Regions from separate parts of the Homo sapiens genome. Here region 2 is linked to region 1. Evidence: fine-mapped expression QTL. A gene starts in region 1. The other region holds a variant in brackets. All regions are shown on one strand. Distances are from middle to middle.

Evidence for each region.
Region 2: its variant is fine-mapped to the expression of ABHD17C in whole blood (INTERVAL, PIP above 0.99). The same link has a PIP of 0.9 or more in neutrophils.

The regions. Positions count from the first base shown.
Region 1 is chr15:80,693,719-80,696,623 of GRCh38, reverse strand. It overlaps ABHD17C (abhydrolase domain containing 17C, depalmitoylase), which reads right to left and starts at 1,314. Exons shown (of 3, transcript NM_021214.2): 1 at 605-1,314. The coding sequence starts at 1,194. RefSeq lists silencers at 491-550, 971-1,020, 1,111-1,530, 1,551-1,660, 1,681-1,840 and 1 more and an enhancer at 711-780.
Region 2 is chr15:80,720,139-80,723,043 of GRCh38, reverse strand. The region is part of intron 1 of ABHD17C (abhydrolase domain containing 17C, depalmitoylase); the gene reads right to left. Among named protein-coding and RNA genes, the nearest start is that of ABHD17C, 26 kb to the right of the region's middle. The variant G/A (reference allele first, on the strand shown) is at 1,439.

The sequences.
Region 1 (2,905 bases):
CAGCTACCAGCTAACTTCCTGCCCCACAGTGCCACTACTTTGCCCCACCAGGAGGCAAACTCCCCGCTCCACCTGACGCTCCAGCTGTTTCCAAGGTTGCCCAGACATTGTCCTGCCCGCACTTTACAACCAGAAAGTCTTTTAGAGGCCATCCTGTCTCGCCCACTGACTTTACAGGGAAGGAAACTGAGTCTAGAAACCCATGTGCCTTGCCCAAGGTCACTTCAGCTCGTACAAACGAAACTCGAACCAAGTTGTTTCTTTCTGCCCGGTACTTAAGCACCCACACTCTGCCACTCGCGGTGACCGGAGCCACAAAAGACCCAGCCGGTGGGCCGGCGACACACAGGCGAGCCAAAGCAGGCAAAATTCTCTGAGTCCGAGCTCTCCAGGAACCTGAAGGCTGGCGCGGTTTTTGGAGAGGGTGGGAGCAAGCCAGGGTGGGACAAGAAAAGCGAATTTACGGCGGCCAAGGGGCTCTCCGCTGGCCCTCAGCCCCGGAGGAGGGGCCCCTCTCCTGGCAGGCCGCCCCAGGGGCCCCAAGAGACCCCCACCCCGCCTCCCCACAGCTGGAAGTCAGGCCTGGCGACCCCGGCAGGCTCACCGGGTGCGCAGCGCCTGCCACGCGGCGTCGATGTCGGCGTAGAGGTTCTTCTCGGAGGGCTTGCCCGAGCTGACGCCGTATCCCGAGTAGTCGTAGGAGAAGATGTTGCAGTTGATGCGGGAGCCGAGGCCAATGTAGAAGCTGCACATCTGGCCCAGGTCCACGGCGTTGCCGTGCGAGAAGAGCAGCGTGTAGCGGCTGGAGGGCGCGCAGCGCACGAACATGCAGCCGAGCCGGTTGTCCCGGGCCGTGCGCGAGAAGAAGACCTCGACGGCGTCCAGCTCGCGCTGCGAGTACTGCCAGTCGGCGCGCTCGCTGAGGTGCAGGCTGCACGCACCGGGCCCCGCGCCCGCGCCCTCCTCGGGCTGCTGCGGTGCCGGCTGGGCCGCGGCGGCGGCGGCGGTAGCCTGGGCCGGGGCCGGGGCGGACGCGCCGGCGCCGCGCTGCTCCGGCGCCAGCACCGTGTAGGTGGGCTCGGGCGGCAGGAAGGCCAGCTTGGCGGCGATGCGGCTCGGGCAGGGCGGGCAGCAGAAGAGCCAGCACAGCTCACCCAGCGAGAAGCCGTTCATCCTGGGGCCTGGCTCGGGCATCGGGACGGCCTGGTGCCCGCCGCCGGCCCGGCTGGCTGGCTGGCTGGCTGGCCCGGGAGGACGGAGGACGGACGCGCGGCGAGGGAGCTGGCAGGCGAGCGCGGAGGGCGGCTGCAGCCCGCCCGCCCGGCGGCAGGAGGAGGCGGAGGCGGAGGAGGGCAGGAGGCGGGGCCGGCCCGGCGGGCGCGGCGCTCGGAGCCCGGGCGGGTCAGCGGCGGCCCCGGAACCCAGGCGAGGCGCGGGCGGCCCGGGCCCGCGCGCGGCACACAAAGCCGGCGGCGGCGTCCATGGCCGGCTCGTGCGCGCCGCCCCCCGCTCCCGTTCCCGCTCCCGCACGCCCGCCGCCGCCGCCGCCGCCGCCGCCACTTCCGGGTTACCGCGCGGCGGCGCCGCCGCTGGGACGCGGCGCAGAGCCGGGCATCGGGGCGGGGCGCTGCGGGCAAGGGCGCGGGCACCTTCCCCGGCCTGGGAAGCACCTTCTCGACCTGCGGCCGACGGGGGCTTCCAGGCGGCTCCGGGGCCCGGAGAAGCTGGGTGCCGGGGCTGGGGGCTCTGCGCCCGGACAGCTGGGCCGATCTGCAGAGGGGACCCTGGAGGGGGTGCATGTGTCCCGGGGTGGACCGCTCCCCTCCCCTCCCCCTGGGATTCCCTCCCCCAAATCCAGGTTTCTCCCGTGGATGGAGGTTCTTGGGAGTCTACTGAAAAGGAAACTAAGGGGTGGACAAGAGTTGGAATGTGCCCGAAATATTTGGCTCTCGTGTGTGCTGCTTTCTGAACTGGCTCAGTACCAAAAGTTCTCAGCACCGTAAGGGGTACCGGGGTTGTGGGATAGGGTGGTCATCAGTGTGTTTCTTATTAGGAGAGGCTGTTTCTGTATAGGTAGCAACAGCGTTTCCTTTCTAAGGGCATGGTTTTACCCTTAGTACATTTCTGTATCTATAAAAGTCAGCTGTTAGAACAGGAGGGTACTGTATTTAGCAACAAACCATGTTGAGGTTGTCATTTCTAATCCCACGTGTGGCAGATTTTCCGGTAGTAAGTATATACTAGGTATCGTTTACAGTGTTTGTGTCTCTAGAGTTGTTTTGGGTCCAGGATTTTTCAGTGGTCTTAGTCATGAACGATTCTTATACTGCTTTAAATCTACTGTAATCTTGGCAGCCACCTTTACATGATTTTTCAAATATAACTCTCGGTGCCTTGAAACTGTGCTCTGGTGCCAGTTTCCACAGAGCCTTCTATACTTCCTTTTTCCCGCCTGATTTGGCAGCTGAAGAATTCCCTTTCAGGAACTGACAGGAGATACCCTTCCTGGACTGCCAGCAGGGCAGCTAGAGACTGGGAGGTTGGCACAATCCCTACGCTGGGTCTGTTGTTTTAACTCACAGATGTCCTGAGAATTTTACCTTTCGTTGTGACTTTCCACAGGACGAATATTTTGAGCACCGTCATCTAAATGAATTGCCGATACTGATTTCATTAACCTTCAGGACCTCGCTTTTAATTTTTTCTTTTTTAAGAGACAGGGTCTTACTGTATTGTCCAGGCTGGACTCCCAACTCCTGGGCTCAAATGACCCTCCGGCCTGCCTCCCAAGTAGCTAGGACTACCGGCACATGCCACCTTGCCCAGCTAGGACCTGGGTTTTAAAAGGCCATTTCTTCACTAAAACAATTTTACTTGTTTTTGAACTATTCAAACTTGATTTTTA
Region 2 (2,905 bases), 26 kb before region 1:
AGTCAGCCCCGCAGAACCTAAGGATGTGAACAGTTGGTCCTCCGTATCCACAAGTTGTGCATTGCTTAAACACTGTTATTTTCCATCCAAGGTTGGTTGAATCTGTAGATGCGAAAGCTAACTGTACTACTCAGCCCTTAGAAAGATGGAAATCCTGCCAATTACAACAACATGGATGGTCCTGCAGAACTTTATGCTACATGAAATAAGCCAGACACAGAAAGACACATGCTACGTGATCTCACTTACATGTGGAATCTAAATAGGCAAACACATGAAGCACAGAGTAGAATGGTGGTTGCCAGGCGTTAGGGGAGACAGTAATGGGGAGGTGTTGGTTAAAGGGTACCAAGTTTCAGTTATATGAAATAAATATCTGGAGGTCTACCGTACAGTATAGAGCATATGATTAACAATACTGCGTTGTACACTTAAAAATTAACCAACAGGGAAGATCTCATGTAAAGTGCTCTTACCACAAAAGGAAAAAAAAAAAGGGTGGGCAAGAGAAAACTTCTGGAGTGATGGATAAGTTTATGGCAACAACAGTGATGACAGTTTGATGGTTTCATAGGTGTAAACTTCAAATACATCAAGTTGTATATATTAAATATCTACAGCTTTTTGTATGTCAATCACAGCGCAACAAAGCAGTTCTTTTAAAAAAGATTCCTTTCTCATAGTGAAGATAAAGGGGAAACATTAAAAAAAAAAAAAAAAAAGATTCCTTTGGCTTCTAGTTCAAAATGATGACCTGAGCCCATCTGTTCACTTTTCAACCAATCCAAACATCACTGGAAAAGCAGCATAAAAATTAGAAAGAAATAAACTTACAACAGCAGAGAGAATAGGAAGACAGGGAAAAATCAGAAGGAATTCCAGTGCGCTTCTCGGTAACTGAAGGTGTGTGGAAACAAACTGACGGATAAAATCGAGTGGAGAACTCTGTCCAGGACATGCTATAACAGGGCTGCAGGGAAGATGGAAACCACCTGAATCCCAGAGAGGATTCCGACTCAAAATTAGCATGCAACTAAAAATAGGTAAATTATAGGAAGTCTGAACAGAAAGTTATACAAATCCAACTCCCTTCCCAACACAAAGTATAAAGCCCTCCTGGGTGAGCTAAGACTTTTAGTTGGTGCTCTCAAGGAAAGTCATCCTTATGCTGGCACTGGGGGGCCTCCTTCCCTCCAGAAACAAAGTCTACCACAACAAGGAAGGAGGCCCCCAGTGCCCTACTGGCTGCGTGTGTCTGAAAGCCCCCAGCCAAATTTCCTCTTGCGGGAGAGGCCTGGCAAGGAATACCACCTTACGCTGCACAGAGGAAACCCAACCTGGTTACCCAATCTTTCCTTCCTCAGTGTAAACTGAAGAACAAAAGTGACGACAATGACAATAGCATTTATGGCACATCTGCTATTTTGCCTGTGATGAC[G/A]ATGACAATGACGATAGCATTTACGGCACATTTGCTATTTGCCTGGCACAATTCTAAAAGTACATGTACTAAATGATTTAATGTTCAATACCTCTAGCAGTTGGATATCATTATTATTAAAGTACTTTGCAATTAGGAAATGAAAAAGCCAAGATTCAGCCCAAATCTGAGCCAGTGACCAGGCTCTTTATCACCAAGCTAACCTACCAACATACAAGGAAAGCTAGCAGCATCAAAGACCCAAGTATCTTTCACAGAGGACTCAGACAGGTATGGGACCAGCATATAGGGCTTAAAAAAATAAGTATACTCTTGGATTTATGAAAATATATCCTTAAAACAAGAGCAGGATGTTATGAAAAAGGGAAGTCAAAGAGTTAAAAAAAAAAAAAGACAAAAAATGATGGGTAAACACAAAATCTAACTCACAGTCCCAAAAATAAAGTTGAAGAGGCCTCTCAGAATATCAAACAAAGTAGACAAAAAGATGGAGAATATGGGAGACAAGGAAAATCCAGAGGTCAGTATAATAGAAGTTGTAATAAAAGACACCTATGAAAATGTAGGAAAAGAAATTTTGAAAGAAATATTAAAGAAAATCTCTGAGACCAAAGGATCCAAGTCTTCAGTCGGTAAGGGCCCCCATTAAGTGTTCAACATAAATTAATATTTTTTTTTTTTTTTTGAGACAGAGTCTCACTCTGTTGCCCAGGCTGGAGTGCAGTGGCGTGATCTCGGCTCACTGCAACCTCCACCTCCCGGGTTCAAGTGATTCTCCTGCCTCAGCCTCCCAAGTAGCTGGGATTACAGGCACCCGTCACCACGCCTGGCTAATTTTTGTATTTTTAGTAGAGACGGAGTTTCACCATGTTGGCCAGGTTGGTCACAAACTCCTGACCTCAGGTGATCCGCCTGCCTAGGCCTCCCAAAGAGCTGGGATTACAGGCATGAGCCACTGCGTCCGGCCATTAATAATCATTTTTAAAAGACCCTCCCTTGGAATATTTTTGTAAAACTTCAGAACACAAAGAATATATATAAAAAAATCCTAAAAGCTTCCTTAGAAGAAAAAACAGGCCAGCTTCAAGAAACCAGAACCAGTCCAGCACCAGGCTCTGCATTCCAGGTGCCTACAGGACAATGCCTTCTACATTCTCAAGTCAACTGACCTTCAGACATGGATCCATCAAGTGGTTTCTAGAAAGTTTACCTCCTACATTTCCATTCCTTTGAAGATATTACAAACTTCCTCTAGCAAAACTAGAAAGAGAACCAAGAAAGAACAAGTAGAAACTGGAAAACAGGGGGCCCACCAAGAAAGGGGAAAGGCCTCAGGTGATCCCTGAGTCCTGGGCAGGGAAGCAGAAAATTAAATTGGGAGAAAGTGAAAGGTTCCAAAAGACAAGGGAGAGTGTGATGCAAAAGACAGTGTAACAAAGAAGACAGAAACATCTGAGCAAATGATGA